Linked DNA regions of Homo sapiens. The protein of the gene in region 1 purifies or fractionates together with the protein of each later gene. This does not show direct contact. Each region holds a gene or a part of one and is shown on either strand. Other genes may lie near its edges.

The links. The genes of interacting proteins can lie anywhere in the genome.
Region 2: the proteins of ANP32B (region 1) and FKBP3 purify together in Homo sapiens (affinity purification with mass spectrometry, with the first as the bait; one large-scale study listed by BioGRID). This does not show direct contact.
Region 3: the proteins of ANP32B (region 1) and SLC7A6OS fractionate together in Homo sapiens (co-fractionation; one large-scale study listed by BioGRID). This does not show direct contact.

Annotation. Positions count from the first base shown.
Region 1 is NC_000009.12:97,986,341-97,989,840, forward strand, and holds part of ANP32B (acidic leucine-rich nuclear phosphoprotein 32 family member B), read left to right. Parts: intron 1-305; exon of another isoform or gene 306-475; intron 476-1,179; exon of another isoform or gene 1,180-1,463; intron 1,464-2,625; exon of another isoform or gene 2,626-3,500. UniProt on the Homo sapiens protein: Multifunctional protein that is involved in the regulation of many processes including cell proliferation, apoptosis, cell cycle progression or transcription.
Region 2 is NC_000014.9:45,117,482-45,120,981, reverse strand, and holds part of FKBP3 (peptidyl-prolyl cis-trans isomerase FKBP3), read left to right. Parts: intron 1-27; coding exon 28-95; intron 96-2,856; coding exon 2,857-2,954; intron 2,955-3,500. UniProt on the Homo sapiens protein: FK506- and rapamycin-binding proteins (FKBPs) constitute a family of receptors for the two immunosuppressants which inhibit T-cell proliferation by arresting two distinct cytoplasmic signal transmission pathways. PPIases accelerate the folding of proteins.
Region 3 is NC_000016.10:68,300,947-68,304,446, reverse strand, and holds part of SLC7A6OS (probable RNA polymerase II nuclear localization protein SLC7A6OS), read left to right. Parts: intron 1-214; coding exon 215-421; intron 422-1,937; coding exon of another isoform or gene 1,938-1,945; coding exon 1,946-2,066; exon of another isoform or gene 2,067-2,070; intron 2,071-2,627; exon of another isoform or gene 2,628-3,041; coding exon 3,042-3,172; 3' UTR 3,173-3,500. UniProt on the Homo sapiens protein: Directs RNA polymerase II nuclear import.

The sequences.
Region 1 (3,500 bases):
TGGTGCTTTTTGCACTTGGGAGAGTTGATGAGGCCTTGAGAGAGTGTTGTGGGAGCCAGCTAAGATTGTGGGGGTAGAGGAAGGTTCCCTTAGGGAGACTGAGACCAGTGGGAGTTAGGTACCCAGTTGGGCGAATAAAACTTTGACCTAAAAGTGAAGGGTTTTTCAGGAAAAAATGCTGTAGATTTTGAAGGAAATTCTAAAAGAGAGTTTAAAGTGTTTTCGCACAGAGGCGTCATCCTTAAGGCAAATGAAAAGTTTGGAGATCACTCTCTTAAAATCACATTCAGCTAGTCACATGATACCTTATGTGTGATGTGCTGGAACATGCCATAAACACCACAGAAATTGATGGCATTGTCAGCTGTTACACAGTAGGCTTGGCCTCTGGGATCCTGCAGACTTGTCGTGTGGGGTAACATGAAGAATCGTTTCCCTTGTTGAAGGTATACTGTTGTTGTATGAACAGGATGCCCTGAAATATACAGCAGTGTCCCATGGTTGACCTTAATGATTTTAAAGTCAAGTGAGATTTAAGGGTGTTTGAAGAGGGCGAATAGGGGTTTAATTGTAAATATGTTCTTACGTTTAAGACCAGATGGGCTTTTATTGTGTATATGGCTTTTTTTTAATTACTGGGGTTTGAAGAAGACCCTAGTAACACTTTTGTTCAGTTGGGCTCTTGTGTGTTCTGACCAAGGAAGACAAGAAGGTAAACACAAAAGTGTTACTAGGGTCTTCTTCAGTTCACCTGTTACTATATCCCTATTCCTTATAAACACAAGTATGCCCATTTCCCTAAGGGATGGGGGCGAGGGATTGTAAAGAAATACAGAATTTTATTTATTTTTTTCTAAGTCCAAAAGAGCTCTTATGGCAGGGTATATTCTCATAGTGGAACAAAATGGCCTAAGATGGCATTTTAAAGTAATCTTCATGAAGAATGGTGGTTACCATTTAAAAACATTTTATAGACAAGGATAGGAGATAGTTTGTATGACAAGGAAATATTTTATATAAAATATTGGCAGTTCACTGAGAGTAAATTGAACAGTGCTAGAATACACCATATATACACCATGGAAATTGGAGGTCTTGTCAGTAAAATGAGAAGACACTGACATGCAGTAGCTAGATATAAACCACATTTAGTTGTATTCTAAAATTGGAAAAGAATACCTGTTCTTTATGTGAGATTCTTATCCTTCCAGTAAACTGAACATGTCGCTCTGTTAGAAGCACCTCATTAACCACGCATCTGGGGACAGTCAGCCTTCCTATCAGCTCTGAGTTTTTCATTCAAAGTTAGAAAGCCAAGCAGTTCCTTACTGTGGCTTGCAGTCTATGCACCTGCGAAATGCTGGTGTGCTATATGCTGGACTGTGACATTTCATATACCAAAATAAAAGTCTTTACGTAGTCCCAATTTACTGAGAAAAAATGTAGATTGTCTTTAACTTCCATCTTTTTTTGATCCGCACCCCCTCCCCAGCTTTTGACCTCTTTTGTTGTGTCTACTGTGATGTAATTTTGAGCTCAATTGGATATTCTAGTTGGTTGCATAGCAACTAATTGGGGTTTTTTTCCTTGTATAAGTAATACATCTTCGTTTAAGAAAAATTAGATATAGATAGGCCAAAAAATTGTAGGTATAGACAAGCAAAAAGAAGATAGACATCATACATGCCTAACGTACCATCTAGACACTTTAGTGTATTATAGTCTACCAGAATGTTTAAATTTTTTCTAAACTTGGTTCATGCAAATAATCCAAATGCTAGCTAGCTTGTTGCTTTTTTTTTTAGAAAAAAAATACAGTCAACATCTTTGTGTGTGTCCTTATTTTATAGACTCATTATTAATGTCTGCATAGATCATAATTTAAACATCCCTCTCAGGTTGTTCACAGGGATTTTGGCTGTTTTAAATACTGCTGAAATGAGCATCTTATAATGTGATTTTTTTTTCCATCTGCCAGATTGCTTTTCAGAATGGTTCCCGTCTTTAAATACCCACCAGTAGAATATTGGTGTTTCCTTCCTTAATGCCAGCAGTCGTGCTACCTAAACACATTGGAGAACCACTAATAGAGATCCGTTCCAGGCTGGGCACAGTGGCTCGTGCCTATAATCCTAGCACTTTGGGTGGCAGAGGAGGGTGGGTCACCTGAGGTCAGGGATTCAAGACCAGACCGGGCAACATGGCGAAACCCCGTCTCTACTAAAAATACAAAAATTAGCCAGGTGTGGTGGCAGGCACCTGTCATCCCAGTTATTCTGGAGGCTGAGGCAGGAGAATTGCTTGAACCCCGGGGACAGAGTTTGCAGTGAGCCAAGATAACACCACTTCACTCCAGCATAGGCAAAAGAGCGAGACTCCATCTCAAAAATAAAAATAAAATAATAAAAAGTTCTATTAATTTAGAAACATTATTTTAAAATAATGGGTAGAAGATTTGAATACTGGTTAACTCAGAAGAATGGAAATTGCAAGGATGGCAGGAATTACTTTCTATATTTTGGGATTATTTCACTTACCATAATAACCAGTATTGTTCTAATTAAAAGAATTGACAACTCAGAAAGATCTTTAATTCCTCCATACCCTTTCCTCCTTTTATGGCAGAGACAGCTGGTATAATTGGAGAGCATCGCCCCACCAGTTAGGTAAAGTTGATCTTTTTTCATAATAGCTAGGGGAGTGGCAAATGAGCAAATTGAAGAGAATGAAAGGAAAAAAAATGTTTCCATCTCCTGTGGCCCCCAGCTCCAATCCCCAGGGATATTCCCATGACCTAGACTCATCATAACTTAAAGAAGGACCTCATAGGCATTTTGCCATTTAGAACTTAAAATGTGTTTTGTTTTTCATAGAGGTAGTGTTATAAATCATTGTTATATCCTCCAGTCAGATCTGAAAAGGTATTTGGCTGCAATATAGTTCAAATTTTTCAATGAAAAAGTAGTAGGAAACTACTGTTTGCTGGTAACTGTAGAAAACAAATATGAGTTAAGTAGGAGGTAGTATGGATTTTTCATTTTTAAGTGTTTACCTTAAATTTGTGTTTGAGAAAAGGCAAGTTTAATTGGAGCATGAGGGAAGAAGAGGAGTGAATTTGGCCCCAAAAGTTAAACTGTCCATCTTCAAGCAGAAGGCCAGTTAACTCTTGGATCAAATAGATCCCTCAGATTTAAGCACAAATGAACAAGTGCCTGCCTAACTTTCTTCATTAGATAGCAGCTCTGGGAGGATTTGAGATATAAGAAGAAACTAGGGCCTTTTCTCCTTTGATTAGGACCTCTGGTTTATTCTGAATCTAGATTGGGAAGCTGTGGGATCATCTTGACCCCAGCTCCACTCACTGTCTCAACTACACTCTTCCAAAGCTGTTATCTCCTTTGCAAGGCAGTCTAGATCTCTATACCCAGGAAGGAATGAAAAGAGATGAGGCTTAGTTACCTCTGTGGAGATCCACTGAGAACCCCAGAGTTGATATAAAG
Region 2 (3,500 bases), on another chromosome or scaffold:
TAATGATAAGGAAAATCTGTTTTACAGGTGCAAAGAAGAAGAAAAATGCCAAGCCTTTAAGTTTTAAGGTCGGAGTAGGCAAAGTTATCAGAGGAGTAAGTAAAGAATGCCAATGAATCAGTAGATATTCTGGCATATGCTGCTTCTGGTATGGTGCTGTAAAGAATTAGGTTTGGGGATATAATACAAAGGAAACAGACTTTGGAGTCTGACAGATTGGGTATAATCATTGTTAGCTGATCTTGCACAAGTTATCTCGGTCTCAGTTTCGCTACATATAAAATGAGGACAGTACTGCCTACCTCAAGGTTTTTAGAAGATTAAATGAGCATAACTTGAAGTACCTAATACAGTAGGGGCTTAAATATTAGTCCCTTCCATGTGTACCCATTTTATTATTTTTCTTCATAAAGTAAGTCTTTGTCAGAATGTTTGGCCCTCTAAATTTAAGGTTCCTGTAAAATGTCTTATAACTGTTGTACCATTTACATATAATTTGCAAAGGTAAAATATCTGTCCCACTGAAGTATTCACAGAAGCAGAGTTTGTTTCTGCAGCCTTTTCACCTCATACAACATAGGCTGCAATACCAGAAAATCATTCAAACATGAGCATGCTTTAACCTACACTTATATGTGAGAGATAACAGAAAGAAACTTTGAGAAAAGAGGAAGTTAGGCTTGACCCGTACTGACCATTATACTGTACAAAAGAAGATAAAAGAGTAGGGCAGACTGTCACCTTCTATGAATCAGGTTTTCATGCTAAGGCCTGCCCATTGTGCCCATTGTTTGTTTTAAATTGTTATTCTCAGAACATCAGACATCAATAACTGAAATGCCTATTTAAATGCAGTTATAGGAACCTTCAATATATTACTCTCTGTACAATCAGTAGGTCCTAAGATATGGTTCAGACAATCATATACAGAATATAAAACATCTTAAAACTAAAGGTTTAGTTGAGCATAACTTATAATTGTTACCTGCCCCAGCCAGGCGTGGTGGCTCATGCCTGTAATTGCAGCAATTTGGGAGGCCGAGGTGGGTGGATCACAAGGTCGGTCAGGAGATCGAGACCATACTGGCTAACACTGTGAAACCCGTCTCTACTAAAAATACAAAAAATTATCTGGGCATGGTGGCACTTGCCTGTAGTCCCAGCTACTTGGGAGGCTGAGGCAGGAGAATTGCTTGAACCTGGGAGGTGGAGGTTGTAGTGAGCTGAGATCACGCCACTGCACTCCAGCCTGGGCAACAGAGCAAGACTCCATCTCAAAAAAAAAAAAAAAATTGTTACCTGCCCGTACCAAGTTGATAGCAAGTATATTATCAAATTGGGCCATTTTTCTATTTCTGTAACTTATTTGCATACTGGTAAATTTCTTCTAGTCTACCGTATTCTTTTTTTTTGAGACGGAGTTTTGCTCTTGTTGTCCAGGCTGGAGTACAATGGTGCAATCTCGGCTTACTGCAACCTCTGTCTCCTGAGTTCAAGCGATTCTCCTGCCTCAGCCTCCCGAATAGCTGGGATTACAGGCATGCGCCACCACACCTAATTTTGCATTCCTAGTAGAGATGGGGTTTCATCATGTTGGTCAGGCTGGTCTTGAGTGCTGACCTCAAGTGATCGCCCTCTTCATCTTCAGCCTCCCAAAGTGCTGGGATTACAGGCACGAGCCACCTTGCCCGGCTAGTCTACCATATTCTTATTTTCCAAATGTGACCACCCTAACTTTGTCCCTTGTGCTTTATATGATTGTTGCATTTCAATACAGCATATAATATTAGGAATATTATCCCTTTGGTGATGTGGATTTAACTGTTTGTGGAAACTAGCTTTAAGATCCAAATTTGGAAAATATGGAGAGGCCAACCCAGAAGACTTTTATTGTTTCTTTGAAAAGTTAGTTTTACCTTTTGCAAAAGATCTTAGTGCCGTAACATTTTAAAAATTGTATTTCCAAAATTAGCTGGGCATGCCTGTAATCCCAACTACTAGGGAGGCTGAGGCAGGAGAATCGGTTAAACCCGGGAGGCAGAGGCTGCAGTGAGCCAAGATCACGCTATTGCACTCCAGCCAGGGCAACAAGAGCGAAACTCCATCTCAAAAGAAAAAAAGAAAAAAATGTATTTTATGTGCCAACGTGACTCCACTATTACAATCTGGTAATCTTAAAACAATTTTACAGTGAGTACTTGCCAGTGTATTCCAATAAAAATAAACTCGTTTGTCCTGTGATGTAAAAGTGTTGCAGGTTTATGATGGTGCTAATAACTAACTGGTTTTCATAATGTATGGCATGTTACAGTTTACAAAAAGTTTTTTTTTTGTTTTTTGTTTGTTTGTTTGAGAAGGAGTCTCACTCTGTTGCCCAGACTGGAGTGCAGTGGCTCAATCCTGGCTCACTGCAACCTCCACCTTCTGGGTTCAAGTGATTCCCCTGCCTCAGCCTCCCGAGTAGCTGGGATTACAGGCACCCACCACCGCACCCAGCTAATTTTTTTATTTTTAGTAGAAGATGGGGTTTCACTATGTTAGCTAGGCTGGTCTCAAACTCCTGACCTTAAGTGATCTGCCCACCTCGGCCTCCCAAAGTGCTGGGATTATAGGTATGAGCCCCAAAAGGTTCTTTTCACATTAAAAAAGCCCTGCTTAAAATACCCTTTTTTTTCTATTGAAGAAATGGAAGACAAAGATTTAGGGACTCACTGAAGTACATTATCTTAGAATATAGTGAAATCTATAGTAATAGATTCTGTGTTTGTTTTAACATACAATCTTGTCTTGACTGTCCTGGTATTGCATGTGCTTTTTGCAAAATACCATTAGTTTTTATTTTGTTCTTGCCTTTAGTGGGATGAAGCTCTCTTGACTATGAGTAAAGGAGAAAAGGCTCGACTGGAGATTGAACCAGAATGGGCTTACGGAAAGAAAGGACAGCCTGATGCCAAGTATCCTTTTTTCCCCTTCATAATTAAAGTTGAAAAAAAAAAAACGTCTAGATCACCTTTGAGGATGTGAAAGATGCTGTCTAGGCAAACTTCTGGATCAAGAATCCTGTCCAGACTAGTCTTCCTGATCTTTAGATGCTTATGTGTCAGCACCTCCAATAGGCAATAGTATTTTCTATTGATATAAAGTTCAAACCTCAGCTAGAATTTTTGTTTCTCTTATTCAAATTCTTAACTTTCAAGACCTTAACTGTGAAGTTTAAGCTTAAACAGCAATTCTTAATGTTTTTAAGAGTTTAAGAAAAGTTACCATGCCCAGTACAAACTGTAGCAAACTACGATGCAAATATGGCTCATGGTAATTTTATGGTACAGTATAATTTCAGGCAATTAAATTCAAAGCTTAGAAATGGAATAGATGTGGGAGATTACCAGTTGTGAACTGAAGGAGACCACAGAATCAACAGTGTTAGTGTAAGCATTTATTATTACTACTAATGACAATACTCACTGATAAGTCCAGTTTGTGAACATTTAAAAAAAAAA
Region 3 (3,500 bases), on another chromosome or scaffold:
TGGGAGGCTGAGGTAGGAGAAACGCTTGAACCTGGGAGGCGGAGGTTGCAGTGAGCCAAGACCACGCCACTGCACTCCAGCCTGGGCGACAGAGTGAGACTCCGTCTCAAAAAAAACTGTAGGGAGCCTTCCTTCACCCAACTCATAGGTTCCTCCTCTTGGAACATCATGTTTTGGGTCATGCGTGTGTGTGTAATCTGTGGTTTCTTTACAGACATCTGACCCAGATGTGATCCTCTGCAATTCTGTAGAGTTGATCCGTGAGCGATTGACTGTGTCTGAGGATGGACCAGGAGTCAGGCGCCAGGAAGAACAAAAACACGATGACTATGTGTATGACATTTACTACTTGGAGACGGCCACTCCAGGCTGGATTGAGAACATCCTCTCCGTGCAGCCCTACAGCCAAGAATGGGAGCTGGTAAGGGGGCCCATGAGCAGACGGGGCATGAGGCATCCTAAGCTCTTAATCTAATCAGAATGCTTTGCTTCCCTGGGCTCCACTCCCGAACAACATTGTCCTTAGTTCTTTTCCTCCTGAAAAGGAAGAAATTATTCTAAGTGCCTTTTAGGAACCTGACTTTATAGTACAGGGAATTTGGGGAAAGATCATCTTAGATTGATCATTTTTACATTAATGAATATTTTACAAGGTTTGCAACATCACCTTTATTGTTTATAGCTATCCATTCTTAGGGGGGAAATATGTATATGGGGCTTATGATAAGATAAAGACGATAAAATCAGAAATTCTTAACATGAGTGACAACAAAATCTATTTTTTAATTCGTACCTTAGAAGTAGAGAAACCTCGGATGAAGAAAGCTAACGTCCTGACATTATTCTTTTTTTTTTTTCTTTTTTGAGACAAGGTCTCACACTGTCACCCAGGCTGGAGTGCAGTGGTGCTATCTGAGCTCACTGCAGCCTCTATCTCCCAGGCTCAAGCAATCCTCCTATCTCAGCCTCCCAAGCAGCCAGCCAGGAGTACAGGCATGCACCATGATGCCCAATTTTTGTTGATTTTTTTGTAGAGGCAGGGTCTCACTATGTTGTCCAGGCTGGTCTTATGGTCTTGAACTCCTGGGCTCAAGTGATCCACCTTGGCCTCCCAAAGTGTTGGGATTACAGGTGTGAGCCACCACACCTAGCTGACACCATTATCTTTTTTTTTTTTTTTTTTGAGATGGAGTCTCGCTCTGTCACCCAGGCTGGAGTGCAATGGTGCAATCTTGGCTCATTGCAACCTCCGCCTCCTGGGTTCAAGCGATTCTCCTGCCTCAGCCTCCCAAGTAGCTGGGACTACAGGTGCATGCCACCATGCCTGGCTAATTTTTGTATTTTTAGTAGAGACAAGGTTTTACCATGTTGCCCAGGCTGGTCTCAAACTTCTGACCTCAAGTGATCCACCCACCTCGGCCTCCCAAAGTGCTGGGATTACAGGCGTGAGCCACCGCGCCCAGCCTATTCTCAAATTCTAAAATGCTTAACAAGAAAACTTAAGGTGGCACCTAATGGTCATGCTCAGACTATAATCAAGAAGCACTGCATCCTGCACCTGCATTAGGACAGATTTGCAGTCAGGTACCCACCTTGGACCACTGCATGGCCCTTCCTCCTGCCTTTCCGCACCTCTTACGCTTGGGTTTTGGTTTTGACCTTTGGAATTTGAAGGAATCGCTCAGAGCCATCACTCCTCTTTTCCCTGTGTTCCCTTCTCATGGGGTCCAGCATGTCCTATCATTGTGGAGCTGGGCTCTGAGTGGAAGGGGGCTATTATCTCCCTCTCATAGCCTCTTGTGCAATGGAGTCAAACTACTAGTCTGCAGTTTTTTCACAGGGCACTTTTACATGATATCTCTTCAAGCTGGTATGCTAACAACTTCCCCCAGAGCATAACCTTAGAGGTTTTGACTTGGACTCATGTTTGTGTTGAGATGTGTAGGTGAATGATGATCAAGAACCAGAGGACATTTACGACGATGAAGATGACGAGAACAGTGAGAATAACTGGCGCAATGAGTACCCAGAGGAGGAGAGCAGTGATGGAGATGAGGATTCCAGAGGTGGGTGGCAGCCCCAGACCGGGAGGGACTGGTAGGATCTGAGACTGAGGTGCAGGCATAGTTGACAGGTGCATCTTAATTGCCTTTCCTTCTCTGTCATTGAGCGCCAGCAGCCCAGCCGCAACTGAGCCATGCTGTAGGAGACCCAAAGACCAGTGTTTCCCAGGGGCCTCCTGGGGGTGTAATAATCCATCAGGCCTGGATTCAAATCTGTAGTTGTCATTACTTTGCTGTGGCTCTTGGGCAGTTACTTCACCTCACTGAGCCTCATTTTCTCTCCAAATGAGATGGTTCTGCATGAATTTTAGTGGTTGAGATTATGTAAAATATGTAGCTCATTGTCTCTTCCCCTGCCCCAGTCAAGAAACCAATGAAGAGAGAGGTTTGCCAGTAGGAATAAGCCCAGAGTTTTCACAAATCAGTTATCTAACTTCTCAAAAAACTGCTGCATGTACAACTGTTTTGAGAAAGATGCAACACAGACATAATACCTGGGGGAAGAAGAAAGATGCTCTGACAACATAATTCCCGTAGTAACTATATTAAAGAAGAGAGAAGAAGGCCCAACAAAAAGAATTTATTGGTGTCTGATAACAGAGAAATGAATCAAACAATTGCATATTCTTTTGGGGAGGTTTGTCAATAACACGTTAAAAGGAGAAAGGTACAAAAATATTTACAATATGACTACAACTCTTACAACAACAAAAAATCCTATACGGAGGGGAGAAGTGACAAAATACTCCACGGAGGGGAGAAGTGACAAAATACTCCAGTGTGAAGGAACTTGGTTTAGATGATAGGAAAGTGATTCCTTCTTTAAAAAAAAAAGAATTCTATATTCTTTTTTATTTATTGAGCAAGGATTTTGCATTACAATCGGGAACAAAAACAGACCTTTCTGAGAAGAGAAGGGGCTCCTGCAGTAGCCTAGGAAAATCACATTTAGAATCCACTCCCGGGATGTCATTCTAGGCTCTGCTGACTACAACAGCCTGAGTGAGGAGGAAAGAGGCAGCAGCAGACAGCGGATGTGGAGCAAGTACCCTCTGGATGTGCAGAAGGAGTTCGGCTATGACAGCCCCCACGACCTGGATTCAGACTGATGGTCTTGTGATGTCCATGAGGTTCTGCCACATGCCCTTGAGGGCTCTGAGTCCAGAGTTAACTGCCCTGCTGACATCCTGTTAGGTTTCCTAGCTTAACATGTGGAAGGAAAAGCATATCAAGCATATCGGGCGGCACCATCCCACCACAGTGAAAACTTATGTTAGGGGAGTGAGTCTTTTCCACTTACAGTAGGACCCCTTTGCCTCAATCAAAAGTGACCCTACAGTTTGAAAGAAAAAAAAACGTTGAAAAAAGGAAGGTTTCTTTAGCTTTAGCTTCTTGGCCCAGGAATTTTTCCTGGCATTCAGGTTCTGTGCTGAAACC